3 linked regions of the Homo sapiens genome follow. The protein of the gene in region 2 interacts with the protein of the main gene of each other region in a pairwise test. Each region holds a gene or a part of one and is shown on either strand. Other genes may lie near its edges.

Region 1 (7,034 bases), on a different chromosome or scaffold from region 2:
CCAATGAACGTGCTCTGTGAATTTCATTAAGGCATTGTTTACTCCTAGATCATTAATGAAAGAGCTACACCAGGTCAGACTGAGCTCCAATAGCACCCTCCGGTGCCTCCTTCATCCTTCCCAGTTGCCTTTTCTCCTTCCCCTTTGTTTGTGCTTGTTACTCAGAAGCAGTGAATTCCTGCTGACAGCACCCGCCAATTTGAATTCCCAGGAAGATTTCAGGAGAGTCTCTGTTAAACAGTATGCAAACATACTACATATGACATCTTCTTTATCCTCTTTGCTGTTAACGTTGTAATTCTGTCAACATCAATCACATTTACCTTGTGAATTATCCTTTTACCTGTTAGTATTTATTAAAACCACCATTGACTTTGCCATGGTACCAGGGAGCTGAATTAATTTAAAATAATGATAATGAGACTCAGCCTTGTCATCTCATATGAAAATCAGTATCATATTTGGCTTTTCCTTCCAGAATCCTGGGTCCTCTCAACTTCACATGCTTTAATAGTACCTCAGATGGCTGAATGTTCTCTGATAGTAACCCTCAGTAATGTTGGCAAAGTTGGTGTTTAAGAAACTTGGTCAGCAGGCTTGGACTCTATCAGCAGTGTTTGGACATCTCTTCTGGGCTGTGGTAGCCACATTTTTCCAGGGGTGGAGAGACATCAGTGTGTGTCAGCTAAGCCTGGCTAGTTGCTGTTCAATCCCATCCCCAAACTCTTTGGATGGGAAACCACACCCCCAGTAATTCTATCCCAGAAGGTCCCACCCAGAGAGACCTGTTGCTACAAGTCCTGTAGCACTAGTAAGAGATTTTGGTCCTTTCACTTCCCCTTTTCCTTTTGCCCTTTGGCCTTTGCATTTTGCCTCCCTTCTTTCAATTGTCCCCTTCCCCCATGTTCTTCACTTGCCACCAGGTTGGTGATCTGACAAAGACACAGTTGTTGGCAGATTTCAGGCATTTTCCTTCCAGGACCACTTATATTTACCAAGGAGGGCACCAGACCTAATGCTAAGGAAGAATTCCAATCCACAGATGGGACTTCAGGCTTCTGTGAGGGCGATGTTCGTGCCCATGGCCCTTCCTGGATCCCTGTCACTAATGCATCATTGGGTTACAGCTATGAGCACATTTCCCCTGAGGACAGAGTCTCTTGGCACCTTTCTAGCACCCGACAGGAAGGCATGATGAGCCCATGACCAACTTATTCCCCTTCTGCATCAGCTTCATATCTCATTCCTCCATGAAGAAGCCAACCTTTTTCTTTCCTACCTACTGGATCTCTATGTGAGGGCATTTCCTAGAGACCAGAAAAGAGACAATCTTTTATTTTCATGGTCAGTTGCACCATGCTACACAGGCTGTACCTCCCAGGCTTAGGAGAACATTACTGGGGTGTTCTTGGGGCTTTGTATTGGCATAGACCTCTTGTCAAGGGCTAAAGGATATCAGGGCAGGTTAGCTTGGCCCATGAAACCAATCCAGTGATACCACTGGTCGAGGAGTCCTACTGAGAAGGAACTGGCTTCTAACATAGGCCAAGGAGGTCTGGAATCCTGGAACTGCATATGTTCGCTGAGCTCAGATGCTTAGTTTTTGGGTAGCCCTTTTGTAAAGAAATATACTCCACGTTGCATAGCGCTTTAGGCTGGGTATGTTTAAACCTTACCAGTAGAACTGACCATCTGTTTAGTCTTTATGACAGCTTGGCTACCACTTTCTTGTCCTCTGGCAACCCCAGGAAGTAGGCAGAGCAGCCATGTTTAGGCTTATTTTAGAGGTGACATTCTGAGAGGCAAAATGACTTTCTCAAGAGCAGTCAAAGGAAGGACTTTTGAGCCCAAAGTTACTGGAAATTTAGGGCGTTTACCCTCGTTGGATTATATATTCAAGATGATGAAAGGGACCACTAGCGTGCTTGTGTGCAGGGGGTGGTGGGAGCTTCCTCTAAGGGAGTACATGGATGAACCTAGGGGTTTGTGGAATTCACGTGAGGAAAACTCCATGCTTATAGATTTTACATCATACCATAACAGCTTTGCCCTGGGACTATTTTAAAGTCTTAAAATATGAATGGAAATGAGGATATAGCTTATCAAATACACTAACTATATTAAGGCAAAAGAAATGGCCATTTTTGTAGGCCAAAAATGGTAAAATGTTAACAGTTTCTTATGGTTCAACCTAGTATTTCCTCCCAATCTTTCAGTGTATTTTGGTTGATTCAGTTATTGCCAAGGACTCATTAAGCCTCCACCACATGTGAAATTTGCTTTCTAATTCCCAAGACTTGGGATGTCACAAAAACAAGGGATAGGTCACTGTGCTTAGATAATTGCAACTTACTCATATGGGGAGAGGACAGGCCTGGTTGTAAGAGAACCATTGCAAAGTAATGATATTAGCACATGCAAAATAAAATGTCTGAGCATTGTGAAGTGCTAGAATAAACATGGAGTTTGGAGTCAAATATCCTCATTTTAAACCCTGGTTCCACTCCTTTATCAGCTATGTAATCTTATGCAGAATCATGCCAGTTCTTTGGGTAAGATATTACATATGAATACAGAAATCAATTAGCATATAACCTGACACATTATAGTCACTCAGTGTTATTTTTTTTCTTGTTCTATATAATCTTTCTCTAAAGAAATGCTAAGCAATGTCTCTTCTAAAAGCCCTTCTTGTATGTCTGCAGCTCTTTATAAACAAAGAAAATGTTCCGAGTCTCCTTTTATTTCTGAACAACAAACCCTCTGAGAGAAGTAGGGCAGATGTTGGTGAGGTCGTTATAGAGGGTTGTACAGGTTGTGCCCTGCAGTAACAGTGAATAGCGCCTTTTAGAGTTGGGCATTTCAAAAATATATGGGTTGGCCCTGATTCATTCATGTCAACATCCACATTTTCTAGGAACTAAGGCACAGAAATGAAGTGACTTTGTAAAGGTCATGCACTCATATAGTGCAGAGCCAGAATTCTCTGGAGATGTTATCATTTCTAGTCCCCTATTCCCCACACCTTGCTGCCTGCGTTAATGCTTCCTGCATTTTGACTTCTCTCATTTGCATCAAGAAGTAATTGGTGCTATTCACTGATTCTTCAAATCAACTGGAAATTCCCTGAGGGCAGGGTCTGTGAGCTTGGAACACAGTACGTGCCAAATTAATGTTAGTTGATTCACTGACACTAATGTAGGGGAAAAATTGGTGCAATAACATCCTGAGTGGGTACATGACTAGGGTGAAGAATTTTCACAAGGCCAAGAGCTTTCCTTTAAGGATTAAATCCAGCTAGCTCTGATCAGAATCAGAGAAATGCTACAGGAAAAAACAAGTTTGTTCTGGATCAATGTTTTCCTGAAGTTCAATCATGATCCTTGTCATGTCTAAAAATGCCTGTATATTTAATATAGGTATGTTTTCCCATTACTCATTAAAATAAGTATATGACTACTGAAAAATTTTTAAATGTTCTAAGAAATTAAGCCATGAGGAAACACTGCACTTGACCACTTTCTTGGTCCTGTCTGAGGATAGGAGGAAAGATAATAGGACTCAGTCATTGGAGAAGAATTTGGTTTCCTGTTGAGAAAGTAAAGGGGACTTATTTGTCCATCAGCATTTCCTGGATTAGGTGCTGTGGGCATGGAACAAGAGAAGGCACAAAGCCTGCTTGGGAAGAGTTGGCCATTTAGGGGAGAGGACGAGATGCCAACTAGGTTGGTAAAAGAGGGCTGCTGGGGCCATAGTGGTGCCAATTTACAAATGCAAATCCACTGGACCAGAGACAGTTAGGCCAAGAGAGCACTTAGAGATAATGACTCTTACCCTTCATTTTACAGAAGTGGAAACTAAGGTCAGAAAGTGAGTGGATATGAGCAAGATCACCTGAATGTGTGAATAAAGACCAGGGCACAAACACCCAGGTTGTCCGTGGCTAGGGATCCACCATATGTTAAGGTTTTGTTTAGTGTATTTCTGTTGAGGGGATGACAGAATGTTCCTTGGGTACCCAGTGTGGAAGGTGGATGTAGAACACAGGCAGCTGAATGCCATGGGTTAAAAGCCATCATGGCCAAATATGGACAGGTAGAAAGCATCCATGATTCCTCTTTGGACCCTTAGTTGGATCAAGAAGATTGTCTCTCTGGCTGAAACAAAACGATCGTTAAAAAGAAATGAGAATTGGGGAAATTTGAACATGGGCTCAGTATTCGCAGATATTGAGGGATAATTGTTAAATGTTAAAGGGTGATAATGGTATTGTGATTCTGTTAAAGAGGCACATATTTATATATTTGTGGATAAGATGACACAATGTCACTTTGCTTTAAGATAACCTAGCGGTAGGGGAGTGGTTGTGGAATCAGGTTGAGGCCTGGTGAAACAAGTGTGGCCTTGATTTGATACTTGGTGAAGCTGAGTGATGGGTACATGGACATTTATTAGACTATTCTCTCTCTTTTTGTGTATGTTTGAAATTTTCCATCATATAAATTGAAGGAAAAGATATCATGTTCCCCAAAGTACTGCAGGACTTTTGATAAATCCATGGTGGTTTCCCATGTGTGTACTTCACACATAGAAGGTCAGGGAGCCAGAAGTGGGTTTGTGTCTTAGTGAAGGAGCTAGTGCTGGTTATTTAACATCTCTGAGTTTCAGTTTCTCCATCTGTAAAATAAGAATAGTAATAATATCTTACATGTCAGTGTGGTGAGGATAAAATGAATTTAGTAGGTAGAATGCTCAGCTCACGGCCTAGCATGAAATTGAGGCTTAATATTTGTTTCCTTCTTCCATTTTCTTCTCAGGACTGGGATGCACATGTTGACTAAAACCACATTTTTCCATGTTGATAGCTTCTGGAGTCAAATCCTGCTGAGATAAAGTATTAGTTCTAGTGCAAGGATGGAGAGAACCTCTTAAGATTCACTCCTGCCAGGCACGGTGGCTCATGCCTATAATCCTAGCACTTTGGGAGGCAGAGGCAGGCAGATCACAAGGTCAAGAGATCGAGACCATCCTGGCCAACATGATGAAACCCCGTCTCTACTAAAATACAAAAAATTAGCCAGGCGTGGTGGCACGCGCCTGTAGTCCCAGCTACTCTGGAGGCTGAGGCAGGAGAATTGCTTGAACCCGGAAGGCGGAGGTTGCAGTGAGCCGAAATCGTACCACTGCACTCCAGCCTGGGCGACAGAGTGAGACTCCGTCTCAAAACAACAACAACAACAACAACAAAAACCACCACCACAACAAAACATTCACGTCTTTGGCTTTGACCAGTCTTCCCAGAAATCCTGGATCTCAGGACCTTAAACCTATCAGAAAATGGTCTAGGTTATCCACAGTGAGGTTCATTCTGATCACAGACAGCTACAGGAGCCAATCTGCTTTCCCAGTTGAGAAATGTGAAAACCAGGGAGGCTGAACTTTTTTAAACTAAATAAAATTCCGCTTGCAGAATGCCCTCATACCCTTGCTATCTGGAAGATTGAGCGTATCCTTACAAAGTTAATGACATGTGCTTATTGCAAAGTTAATGGCATAGAACTGCATCTTCTATTTATCTAGCTCTTTAAGTTTTAAAGAATTCTAACCAACTTTATATACCATGCAAATTGTGTTTCTCTCTCTACATACACCCACACATATATATATAATGTAGTTAGCCTGACTTGTTTTTTATTTTCTCTATCTGTACGGTTGTGAAAGTAACCTAAGACATAAGGAATTGATATCTGGAGAGCATTTTGATATACTTGGATGAAGTACTTTTGGTGTATTTGGAAGTAGCTATCATGATCTGTTTACTTAAATTCATGGCTGCAATCATCACCTCTTCTCTAGTGTGCATTCTACTTGCTCACTTCTTTTTGAATACATCTTATAATTCTTGCATTAGTGAAATCTACTCTTCTTGATAATAATACCTTATGGTTCTTTGGCACTGTTGGTTTTAAAAATATTTTTGCATTCATTATCTCATTTAATCCTCACAACAGTGTTGTGAACTAAGCAGGGCACATATTATTTCTATTTTACAGGTATATTTCATTGACTTTTCAATGTTGGAAGGTGCCTTTAAGATCATGGAGCCCGACTCCCTCTTTTTCACTCGTGAAAAGTCTGGGTCTCAAAGAGGATAAGAGAGCTGTCTGGTTTCAAAGTGCCCATCAGTGACAAAATCAGGATGAGAATTCTTGTGACCTTTCAGTCTGTAATGCTGGTGCAACCCTCACTTAAGCAAATTGCCTATTCTACTTGACTTAGATCTGTCCTAACCACCTGCAGCCAGGAACACCTGAAGGAGCTGGTTAGAAATGCAGATTCCTGGGCCACACCCCAGTCTGAGTAAATCAGACTCACAATGGGAGGCTCAGAAATCTGCATTTAAAACTCACTGGAGTTATTTTTCTGTACTGGGATGTGTGAAAGCTACCAGCTCATTGGAGTTAAGCTCTGTGGATCTGAGCCCCGTTTTATGCTGTGGTCTTGAGGTCTATGGCCACCATCATGAATTCCTCAGGGTCCTTGACTGGCTTTATCACCACATGTTGAACGCTCATTGCTCAGTGATATGTCTGGGATGGGTTTTCTTTCTTTCCAAAATTATTAGTTAGACTCTGCTTTGAGTCTAGCATTGCATTAGAAGCTGGGGTGAATGTTTAAGGGGCTGCTAGCAGAAAAGACTCAAGGGTGGCTAAGAGTGAAGGATATGCCCAGATGGGCAAGAGAGAAGGCTGGGCTGACCAACGGCACCGCCATTTTGGACACAGCAATTTGGGTGGCTGTTTGGATGATTCATGCTGCTTCTCTGCTCATGCTAAGTGTGAGTACACATCTGTGGGTGGTGGCCCTTGAGAACAGTGTTTGTTCCTCCTTTAGGGTGACAGAATGTGCCAGAGCCCATGCTTAGTGCTTTTGTACATTGCCTTTTTTAATCCTAAAAATGTCTCTATGAGGCAAGGAGTAAATGCAATTATCCCAATTTGAAAATGTGGAAATTAAAGCTCAAATAACTTGCT
Region 2 (4,656 bases):
ATTTATGTACTTCTCTTCCAGTGGGGCACACAGTGGAGAGAGTTTGAGACAACACTGCTGAGAGAATTGCCACATGGGCGCTGGCTGCACAGACCCAAACCTCACAGAGTGAAAGGGGACTTTCCTCACAGAGTGAAAGTCGCAGCTTTCCCGAGCCCAGGGAAGCCCCCCAGAGAGGGGCTGTAGTGGGGGCTGGGCAGTTCTAGGAGCCTCCACTGCCCTGGGCCACCCCTCCGCCGCCAGAGCCACGATCCCTGCAGCCGCCTGTGGCAGGTCGTCATTGGTGCCCTGGTGGAGCAGCCCTAGGAAGGGCGGCCGCCCCTGCCTGATGCCGACCCTACCCCTTGCTCCTCGCAGGGGCGTGGGCTGCATCCACTACGAGATGGCCACAGGGAGGCCCCTCTTCCCGGGCTCCACAGTCAAGGAGGAGCTGCACCTCATCTTTCGCCTCCTCGGTCAGTCTCCCGCTGCTCCGTCCCTCTCACCACCAGGGGGCGCCGGAACTCCTCCAGCCCAGGCGCGGAGCGGGACGGGGAGGAGCGGCTCGGCCGCCTCTCTCCCGGGCGGGGACCCCCTGTGGCCTCGGCCATCTTTGCTCCCACCTCATACATTGCATCCCTTTCAAGTCGGCCTTGGCCCTGGGCCTCACGCAGGCCCTCCCCACCCTCTCTCGTCTCCCCAGGGACCCCCACAGAAGAGACGTGGCCCGGCGTGACCGCCTTCTCTGAGTTCCGCACCTACAGCTTCCCCTGCTACCTCCCGCAGCCGCTCATCAACCACGCGCCCAGGTAGCCCCTGCGCCCGCCGCCCCTCCTGCTGCGGCCCTGGCTCTCCCATCCCCAATCAGGCACAGCCTGTGTCCGCGCCTTCTCCTTGCAGGTTGGATACGGATGGCATCCACCTCCTGAGCAGCCTGCTCCTGGTGAGTGTCCTCCCGGCGGGGCCCAGGGAGAGGCAGCCAAAGAGCCAGGTCCCTGTGCCCCATGCCGGGCCTACGCCCCAACTTCTGTGGCTCGTGTGCTTACACGTCTTTGAAACATCTCCCCTGTACTCTCCACCCCCAAGGCCAAGGGGTGGCCTCCATACACATCCTCTGGAGTCTGTGCACTGCGAGCCCAAACCCGTTACTTAGCTGTGTAGCTCTGGGCAAGTTACAGAGCTCCTCCATGCCTCAGTTTCCTCAGCTGCAAAGTGGGATTAATACCTATTTTATAAGATGGCCGTGAGGATACATTGAGATGACGGGACACACTTAGTGTGGTGCCTGTCTTGTAAGGCACACGATGAAGGGTTGTTATCGGCACTACGCTTCCTGTTACGGATGTTCTCCATCTGATCATGGTTGGTTTGCATCTGTATTTCTATCCCAAGAGAAGGTCACTCTCCTGAAGTTTCATTTCTGGTTTTTCCTGGTGGCTGGAGACCGAGGAGCCTTCCCCTGAGTCTTGAGATGGCCTGAGGTTGGGTTTGTGGTAGGGGCTGGAGGCTGACCTGGGGCTTCTCCTGTTAGCCTCAAGCCTCACCCACCTTGGTGCTCTAACCAGCACTGGAGTCCTGCTGCCCAGAGGGTTTGCAGCCCCCCAGCCGGGCCCAATAGCCCCACCCTGTGCCTTTCAGTATGAATCCAAGAGTCGCATGTCAGCAGAGGCTGCCCTGAGTCACTCCTACTTCCGGTCTCTGGGAGAGCGTGTGCACCAGCTTGAAGACAGTGAGTACTGGGGGTCCGGGAGCAGGGCCACCCAGAACCAAGGAAAGGGGTTGGTGAGTGTGGGCAGAAGAACCAGAACAAAGAGGCCAGAGGCCCCAGCCCCAGCAGAGCAGCCCCGGGCACCTTGCCTCCCCTGCTGGGGTTCTCATTCCAAATTGAGGGGGCAAACAGTGGAAATGAGACGCTGCCTCGAGGGCTCAGTTGGTCCTTCTGGGCCAGTCCTTACTGGAGGCCAGCTCCACGCAGCCCTCTCCAGACTATGCACTTCTCTCCCCCAGCTGCCTCCATCTTCTCCCTGAAGGAGATCCAGCTCCAGAAGGACCCAGGCTACCGAGGCTTGGCCTTCCAGCAGCCAGGTAGGGGCTTGTGCTCTCCTGGACCCCTCCCCTTGTTAGTGGAAGCCAGAGCAGGCGACCCCTCCCCAGTGGGGACTCCCATGGTCCCCCCACCACTGGCTTCCCTTTGGACTCTTTGGGGAGCAGAGAAGGGGTTGGTTTCTCCTGCCTAGACTTCCTCGTCCAGCTCTTCCCTCCTCAACCCTCCACCCCAGACAGGACATTGCATTTGACAGTAGCCCTGGCAAAGAGGCATGCTGTCTCTGGTGCATTCTCTCTGCAAACCCTGAGCTCTCTAATCAGATTCCATCCTGGGAGAACGGTACTTTGTTCCTAGAACAGTCAATGGCCTTGGACATTGACAAATGCTTTCCATGCATCGTCTTCTTTAATCCTTAAAATACCCCTTGAAGCTAGTACTATTAATATTCCCCATTTCATAGTCAATGAAACTGAGGCTCTGGGAGGTTAAGTCACAAGTTCATGCAGCTAGTAAGTAGCAGAGATGGGATTTGACACCAGGTCAGACCGGCTCCTGTTTGCATGCCCTTGCTTGCTCTGTCAGAGCAGCTCTGGGGGACAGCGACTGTCCCTGCTGACCTGGGGTACCCGTCAGCCCAGCCTCCTCCCTGCAGCCCCACCTCTTCTCCATTCTCCAGGACGAGGGAAGAACAGGCGGCAGAGCATCTTCTGAGCCACGCCCACCTTGCTGTGGCCAAGGGACAAGAGATCACATGGAGCACAAATTCGGGTAGGATGGAGCCTGTGTGGCCCTCGGAGGACTGAAGAACGAGGGCTGACAGCCAGCCTGGAAGACCGCTTGGCAGCCCTTCTGGCCACGGCTGTTTCTTCTTTGTGCTTCCCGTGTGCCTCCCCAGTAGCCCTCACCTGCATACCAACCCCTCCTTTACCCACGTTGGGGCTGGCATAAGCTGCTTCCCTGAGAGGACATGAGGGGGGGGCGGTCCTCGTACCCTCTCCCACCCTGGTGTTTGGGCACCTGCGTGGGATGCACACGGATGACAGAATCAAGGCGCCAGGATGGGCACTCTGCCCTGGATACAGGCTCTACCCTCCTCCCCCAGGACCTGCCTAGTGCCAGTTTGGTAGTCCCCCTTTCTGGCCCCTTGGAGCCCACACACGTTTCATCTTTTTCCCCTCTGAGAGCAAGAAGAGACATGGCATGTTCTCTGGGACCCTGGAATCCTAGGTACCCACATGTGTGCCAAAGCCTACCCCACCTGGCAGGTGTCCCACAGCAACAGAAGGAATAGTAGTCCCCACTCTTTCCATCAGCCCTACCCTACCCTCATTCCCCGACACCCTCTGGCTTGAACCATGGCTGAGCAGTGCCGGCATACGCTTTGCTGGCATGCTTGGATGCCCAGCTGTGTCCAGAGGTGGCCTGGGACCGCCAGTTGCACGCCTGCCACCTCAGCCAGCCCCCGCCCAGCTCATCAGTCTGAATGGAGTTGCCTTAAATTGGCAGGTGGTACCGTACTCACTGCCCTTGGAGCTGTGACCGGCTCCTGCCTGTCCACCCCTTCCCGAGGTGGCTCCTGCTTACCTTATCATCCCAGGGCTCTGATTAGCCAGGCCTGGTCAGGGTCCTGGGGACGGCACCCAGATATGCAGAGTCACCCTGACACTGGTGCCAGGCTGACCTCAGCTCCCGAAGGCTCGCACAGCCTCCCCATCCTTCCTTCCCAGCCCTTGTGGCTCTGTCCACCTGATCCCAATACCAGCTTCCCCCAGCCCCTGCCACCCCAGAGGGCGGCCACGACAGGGAGAGGTGTAGATGCCACCATCTGAGGGAGAGGAACGTGGAACAGGAGCAGGCTCTGATGCTGAGAGGCTTGCCTCCGGGGGCTGGAAGCCTGGGTGGCCGGGGCCCCTGAAGAAGGCTCCCCTCTGTATCCCCCAGGTCTCCTCAACACTGGGCTGATCCTGAATGGCACAGGCCAAGGGGAGGCCAGCCTCGCCTTTCTACCCAGGCCCCCTGCCCTGCCCACCTCAGGCCCCCACCCTCCACTCCTCCCCACGGTACTGTGAACGTCGTGTGACTCAGTGCAGAGACAGATAATATATTTAATTCATGTACAGAAAGGAGCGAGCAGTCTCGTACAGAAAAGCTGACTTTGATAGATTGATGCCAAAGATGGAGAACTGAAGTCCCCCCTCCAGGCCTAATGAGTGTGGGTGGGGTGTGCTTGTGTGTATGTGTGTGTGTGTGTGTGTGTGTGTGTGTGTGTGTATATATATATATATATATATATATATATAGTGAGGAGAGAGTTTGATTTGTGTGTATCTCTGACCTCCCCTACACCCCAGGCTGTGGGACGAGTGCCTAGCATTCACCTTGCTGTATCCTGGGTGCTGCTGCGTTCAGAGCCAGAAGTTGGCTCTTGCTGAGGAGCATCAGTGGTTGTTGTGGGTGGGCAGAGGAGTCCCAGGCCTGGGAGTCTGACCTGTGGCCTGGCATTGGCCCAAGTTGGTGCCTGTGGGGTGGGGCTGGCCAGGAGAGCAAAGAGGGACCCCTGGGCGGGGGTCTGGGGTCTGGCCGTGCAGCTAATCCCTGTGTTCCTGATGCCAAATGGCCCCCTGGCTTCT
Region 3 (7,034 bases), on a different chromosome or scaffold from region 2:
ATAAACTTTTGTATTGATAGCCTTTTCTTTTGGAGATGGGGGTCTCACTCTGTCACTCAGGCTGGAGTGCAGTGGCACAATCACAGCTCACTGCAGCCTCAAGCTCCTGGGCTCATGCCATCCTCCTGCCTCAGCCCCTGAGTAGCTGGGACAACAGGTGCATGCCACCATGCCTTGCCGAGTTTTTGTATAGATGGGGTTTCACCATGTTGCCCAGGCTGGTCTTGAACTCTGGACTGGTCTGGACTTGAGATTCAGACCAGATCTGTAAGCCACTGCACCCGGCCTTGATAGCCATTTGTTTTCATACACAGCAGCAATTAGTAGCCATTTAAGATATCTGTGCGCCAGCCTACAAGAAATACAAATGTACAGGGTAAAATCCTAGCTGGATCAAATATGAGCTTTGTAAATTTTTAAAAACTTTTTTATTGAGTTGTGGTTTATGCCTGTAATCCCAGCACTTTGAGAGGCTGAGGCAGGAGGATCCCTTGAGGCCAGGAGTTTGGCACCAGCCTGAGCAACACAGTGGGACCCTGTCTACACACACACCCCACCCCCACACACCCCAATTCACATACCACAAACAAAAAAACTCCTAGAAATCACCTTGGCTCAGGCAGCTTCTTCAGATTCCTGAGACCCCATTTCCTGGATCATCACAACCATCTCACAGGATGCAATGAAAAGAGCTGTTAAGCACTTTGTAGACTTGGCTACAAATCTGTGCAGATTTGGTTGCAAAATGTTACTACCCTGACAAGAAGCCATGAACGCAGCCGGCACTGACTCAATATACTTCTGCCAAGGTCCCACCATCAAAACTGTCTTATTGAAGTTAACTTAAGGAAATTGTTATTTCTAAACTTCATATGGTAAATGAAAAATACTGAACAAGGCAAATAAAACAAGATAAATGAATTCCAGAAATTAACATTCAGTCAGTCCTAGGTATTGTTACTTTTTAGAGCATTAAGATACATTGCTATATTGTTGATTTAGCCAAGCTAAGATCCCTATAGTCAATCAAAATAGTTAAATAATTTTTTGTTTTTCCCAAAAATCATTATTTTTTGTTTTAGGATGTTGGCAAACACTGTAATGTGTTTTTTTTTTTTTTTGAGACAGAGTTTCGCTCTTGTCGCCCAGGCTGGAGTGCAATGACACAGTCTCGGCTTACCACAACCCCCGCCTCCCAGGTTCAAGCGATTCTCCTACCTCAGCCTCCCAAGTAGCTGGGATTACAGGCATGCGCCACTAGGCCTAGCTAATTTTTTGTATTTTTAGTAGAGATGGGGTTTCTCCATGTTGGTCAGACTGGTCTTGAACTCCAGCCTCAGGTGACCCACCCACCTTGGCCTCCCAAAGTGCTGGGATTTATAAGCATGAGCCACCATGCCCAGCCTGTAATGTAATTTATAAATACAGTAATGTAATTTATAAATAAAATGTCAACACAGAATACTAATTTCTTGTAGAAAATGTAGAAAATAGGCTGGGTGTGGTGGCTCACGCCTGTAATCCCAGCACTTTCGGAGGCCAAGGCAGGCGGATCACTTGAGGTCAGGAGTTCAAGATCAGCCTGGCTAACATGGTAAAACCCCGTCTCTACTAAAAATACAAAAATTAGCTGGGCGTGGTGGCACATGCCTGTAATCCGAGTTACTCGGGAGGCTGAGGCAGGAGAATTGCTTGAACCGGGAGGCGGAGGTTGCAGTGAACCGAGATCACACCACTGCACTCCAACCTGGGTGACAGAGCAAGACTCCATCTCAAAAGAAGAAAAAGAAAATGTAGAAAATATTTGATTTAAGTGACCTCCTAAAATTTAGAAATACCTAGGAAACATACAACTTCTCAAGATGCAGCAAAATTTACAAAATCATTTTTCAAAGTATCTCGATATAAACAACTCTCAGTTCCAATTTCAACTGGCTTGTCTTTAAAATATGATACTTGATGGCAAAGAATGGGATCTTTTAAGAGTTCTATAGTTTGGATCTATTTGAGAGTGCTGGATTGAACAAATGCAGCCCACAGAATTTAAAATGCAGACACTTGAATGTATAGGATCACCCAAAACAGAGAATTCTGAAGTCTTACGCCAGGGGTTGTTGAAAGGGAAATTCTCTTTTATAGGATTTTTTTCTTTATTCTCGTTTGAAGCAGTGTCTTTGTCTTCCAATGCCCGAGCAAGCATGTAGCTAACTTTTCTTTGATGAGCCAAAGCTTCTTCTTTATCATTAAGCTGCATGCACAGAAATTAAACATGTACAAGTTAGTCAATAAATCACAGAATATATTCAGAGAAAGGAGTATTGTACTATTTTATCAAGTTATTCAACCCTAATATTCATACTGATCTGTCCATCAGTATGAATAAATTAGGTATCACCTGATCCCCAAACATTATACTACATGTTATTCATGAATCTTTTTTTTTTTTTTTTTGAGACGGAGTCTGGCTCTGTCACCCAGGCTGGAGTGCAGTGGCACTATCTCCACTCACTGCAAGCTCTGCCTCCCAGGTTCACACTATTCTCCTGCCTCAGCCTCCCAAGTAGCTGGGACCACAGGTGCCCGCCACCACACCCAGCTAATTTTTTGCATTTTTTAGTAGAGACGGGGTTTCACTGTGTTTGCCAGGATGGTCTGAATCTCCTGACCTTGTGATCAGCCCACCTTGGCCTCCCAAAGTGCTGGGATTACAGGCGTGAGCCACCGTGCCCGGCCAATTCTTTTTTTTTTTAAGACAGGGTCTGGCTCTGTTGCCCAGGCTGGAATGCAGTGATGCCATCTTGGCTCACTGCAGCCTCTGCCTCCCAGGCTCAAGTGATTCTTGGGCCTCACCCTCCCGAGTAGAGTAGCTGGGACTATAGGCGTGCACCACCACACCTTGCTAATTTTTGTAGGCTGGTCTCGAACTCCTGGCCTCAAGTGATCCACTCGCCTCGGCCTCCCAAAGTGCTGGAATTACAGATGTGTGCCACCATGCCAGGCTGACAATTTTTTTTTTTTTTTGAGACAGAGTCTCGCTCTGTCACCCAGGTTGGAGTGCAGTTGCATGATCTTGGCTCACTGCAAGCTCCGCTCTCCTGGGTTCACACCATTCTCCTGTCTCAGCCTCCCATGTAGCTAGGGACTACAGGTGCCAGCCACCACACCTGGCTAATTTTTTGTATTTTTAGTAGAGACAGTTTCACCGTGTTAGTCAGGATGGTCTCGATCTCCTGACCTCATGATCCACCCGCCTCGGCTTCCCAAAGTGCTGGGATTACAGGCATGAGCCACTGTGCCCAGCCCCGACGATTATTTTTTAAAAATAATTTTTTAAAAAAAAAAACAGAAGACAGCATTGAAAATTTTGCAAGTCATCTGGAAATGAAGGGAAAATATAGATCTATATGAAGTGTGTATATATAGGTATATAATATCAACATATAAAAAATATATCAACGTGCATATTTATAAAATAATGTTGAAGTTATTTGTATATAAAATTGCTTTCATATATTTGTATGCAAATATATAACAGTCTAGAGATAAGTATGTTCATATAACCTGAGTCTCAGTGTCTTAGTTTAGTCATTCCATGTGGAATGTGGGTAGCAGGACTGTAAAGGATATAATGTGTGAGGAAATGCCTTGAACACTTTAAAAATGCCTCAATAAACAGGCAGACTTGTCACAAACTGTATATATATAAATGTAGATGGCAAAGCTGGCTGGAGTTAACTACAGGAGCCCCCTGTTTTCCAAGATGGAGCCTTTAAACCTGCACAGAAAGAATATGAATGACGAGAAAAGATGAGCTGAGGGAGATAAAGATCATGAAGGTAGAGTCTGGTACTCCAACTGGGAAAAGGACATAGAAGGCAAGTGCAAGTCTAGAGAGATAAAGAGTTGAATTAACAGGAAGCAAATAGATTAGCTTAACCTAGGGGTGTCCAATCTTTTGGCTTCCCTGGGCCACACTGGAAGAAGAAGAATTGTCTTGGGCCACACATAAAATACACTAACACTGGCTGGGCATGGTGGGTCACGCCTGTAATCCCAGCACTTTGGGATGCCGAGGTGGGCAGATCACTTGAGGTCAGGAGTTTGAGACCAGCCTGGCCAACATGGTGAAATCCTGTCTCTACTAAAAACGCACACACAAAATTAGCCAGGCGTGGTGGTGGGCGCCTGCAGTCCCAGCTACTCTAGAGGCTGAGGCAGGAGAATTGCTTGAACCCGGGAGGTGGAGGTTGCAGTGAGCCGAGATCGCGCCGCTGCACTCCAGCCTGGGTGACAGAGACTCTGTCTCAAAAACCAAACAAACAAAAAAACCAAAAAACAAACAAAACAAAAAAATACACTAACACTAATGATAGCTGATGAACTAAAAAAATATATATATATATCAAAAAGATCTCATAATGTTTTAAGAAAGTTTACGAATTTGTGTTGGGCCACATTCAAAGCTGTTCTGGGCTGCATGCTCCCCACGGACCGTGGGTTGGACAAGCTTGGCTTAACCATAACCTGCAAAAAAAAGCAAAGACACTAACCAAATCTATGAGCATCTTAAGGACCTCTTGAGGACTGTCCTGGTCTTCCATCCTCTTAGAACTGTTTTCTGAAGGGAGCATACCCAACAGTCTCTGCCCGAAGGTCTTCTTACTCCTTGGTGATGGAAATCCTAAAATTGAACATGAGAATCCAGCTGAGACATTAAAATATCCTCACTGATATACTTCCAGCAAAAGAGGTAACTTGATCTCTAGGACAAGTGAGTCCAGGAGCACACAGTGGAATGTAGTGAGCAGAGCACAGCCTTCAGAGCCAGGAGCAATGCAGGTGAGAGGCAGCAAGAGTGCCGCCCTGCCATGCGGCACAGCCACCCCTCTGTGCCAGCTGACACACAGGCCACACAAGAACACAGTCCATGTCACTGGATCATCACAGTCTTCAAGAGCAGCCAGAAATGCAGATCTGTCATGACATCTTCCAATTCTAAATGTCAGCCACTAGTCTTATTGTTTGACTACACTAAGCCAACCTAACAAAACATGTCTGCAGGCCACAGGGGGCCTCTGAGCCATGCAAACTCTGCTTCCGAACAGCAAAGACCTGGACTTGAATCCTCATTCAGCCACTTACTAACTGTATGACCTCGGGTGACTTTTCTCAGCTTGATTTCCTCATCTCTAAAATGAGAATAGCATTACCTTCTTCTCAGGGAACTGTGCCATTAAATAATAAATCACACGGGCTGGAGAAGGGGAAGTGAGGAGTTACTGTTTCATGGGACAGGGTCTCTGTAAAGAAAGATGAAAATGTTCTGGAGCTGGATGGTGATGAAGGTTACATTACAATGTGAATATACTTAATACCACTTAAAAACAGTTCAAATGGTAAACTATATATATATATATATATATATATATATATATATATATATATATAATTTTTTTTTTTTTTTAGATGGAGTCTTGTTCTGTCACCCAGGCTGGAGTGCAGTGGCGCAATCTCGGCTCACTGCAAGCTCCGCCTCCCGGGTTCGCGCCATTCTCCTGCCTCAGCCTCCCGAGTAGCTGGGACTACAGGCGCCCGCCACCACGTCCGGCTAATTTTTTTGTATTTTTAGTAGAGATGGGGTTTCACTGTGTTAGCCAGGATGGTCTCGATCTCCTGACCTCATGATTCGCCCCCTCTTGGCCTCCCAAAATGCTGGGATTACAGGCGTGAGCCACCGCGCCCGGCCAACTTTAGATATATTTTACCACCATCACGACAACAACAAAAAATACCACAATTGTCAAAGGCCCTGCTCAGGTATTAGCATAATATTTAATATTTCACGTGCTGACATCATTGATGTCCTTCTTCATCCATTGAAGGAAAGTAATTTGCAGAAGTTATAAAATCTCAGATTGTACAAGGAAAATTTCAAGAATGTTTTTGGAATATTCTCCAAAAGTGGTTTAGTGGGAAACTGAGAGCAGATGAGGGGAGATCCCCTTCCCACCAATCCTGACAGACCACAGTGACGAGGGCGGCCCTGACCCCTTCCACGAGGAGCTGTGGCAAACAGAAGTCAGAGAAACTGACACTTTGATGAGTAGATGAATCTGTGTCCCTATTTTCAGTCTAAAAAAAGAAATAGCTTGGTGTGATGGCTCAAGCTGGTAGTCTGGAGGATTGCTTAAGCCCAGGAGTTTAAGATAAAAAAAAAAAAAAAAAAACCCAAAAGCAAAAATACAAAGAAAGAAAGAAGTATGCCTATAAACTACTTCCGGAAACTTGTCTAAACTGCCATATCAAAAAGAAAGTTGATATTAAGTGTTACTAAACATAAAATAATCTGTATCACCCTGTACCTCTTAAGATTACTGAAATATACTAATAAAATGAATTAAAGTCTTGTCACTGAGAAACTGAGAAAGAACTACTCAAACTTGTATAGATTTATAAAAGCTGTGCGAGATTAATCAATTTTTTTTTTTTTTTTTGAGATGGAGTCTCGCTTTTGTCGCCCAGGCTGGAGTGCAACAGCGCAATCTTGGCTCACCACAACCTCTGCCTCCCGGGTTCAAACATTTCTCCTGCCTCAGCCTCCCGAGTAGCTGGGATTACAGGCTTGTGCCACCACACCCAGCCAATTTTGTATTTTTAGTAGAGACAGGGTTTCTCCATGTTGGTCAGGCTGGTCTCAAATTCCCGACCTCAAGTGATCCACCCACCTCAGCCTCCCAAAGTCCTGAGATTACAGGCGTGCCACTGCACCCGGCCATCAGTTTTTGGTGGTTTTTTTTTTTTGAGACAGGGTCTTGCTCCATCACCCAGGCTGGACTGCAGTGGTGGGATCATGACTCACTGCAGCCTCAGCCTCCCAGGCTCAAGCGATCCTCCCACTTCAGCCTCCCTAGTAGCTGAGACCACAGGTATCTACCACCACACTTGGCTATTTTTTTTTTTTTAATAGAGACAGGGTCTCCCTATGTTGCCCAGCCTGGTCTCAAACTCCTGAGCTCAAGCAATCCTCCTGCCTC

The links.
Region 1: the proteins of CDK18 (region 2) and CBY2 interact in binary tests that used the Homo sapiens proteins (3 or more experiments, as listed by UniProt).
Region 3: the proteins of CDK18 (region 2) and CCDC125 interact in binary tests that used the Homo sapiens proteins (3 or more experiments, as listed by UniProt).

What each region holds. Positions count from the first base shown.
Region 1 is NC_000013.11:45,705,301-45,712,334, forward strand, and holds part of CBY2 (protein chibby homolog 2), read left to right. Parts: intron 1-7,034.
Region 2 is NC_000001.11:205,528,642-205,533,297, forward strand, and holds the end of CDK18 (cyclin-dependent kinase 18), read left to right. Parts: intron 1-357; coding exon 358-455; intron 456-682; coding exon 683-788; intron 789-879; coding exon 880-922; coding exon of another isoform or gene 923-1,132; exon of another isoform or gene 1,133-1,611; intron 1,612-1,617; coding exon 1,618-1,708; intron 1,709-1,986; coding exon 1,987-2,064; intron 2,065-2,702; coding exon 2,703-2,737; 3' UTR 2,738-4,149; downstream 4,150-4,656. UniProt on the Homo sapiens protein: May play a role in signal transduction cascades in terminally differentiated cells.
Region 3 is NC_000005.10:69,280,787-69,287,820, forward strand, and holds part of CCDC125 (coiled-coil domain-containing protein 125), read right to left. Parts: intron 4,682-7,034; coding exon 4,551-4,681; intron 2,249-4,550; coding exon 1,943-2,248; 3' UTR 353-1,942; coding exon of another isoform or gene 321-352; 3' UTR 1-320. UniProt on the Homo sapiens protein: May be involved in the regulation of cell migration.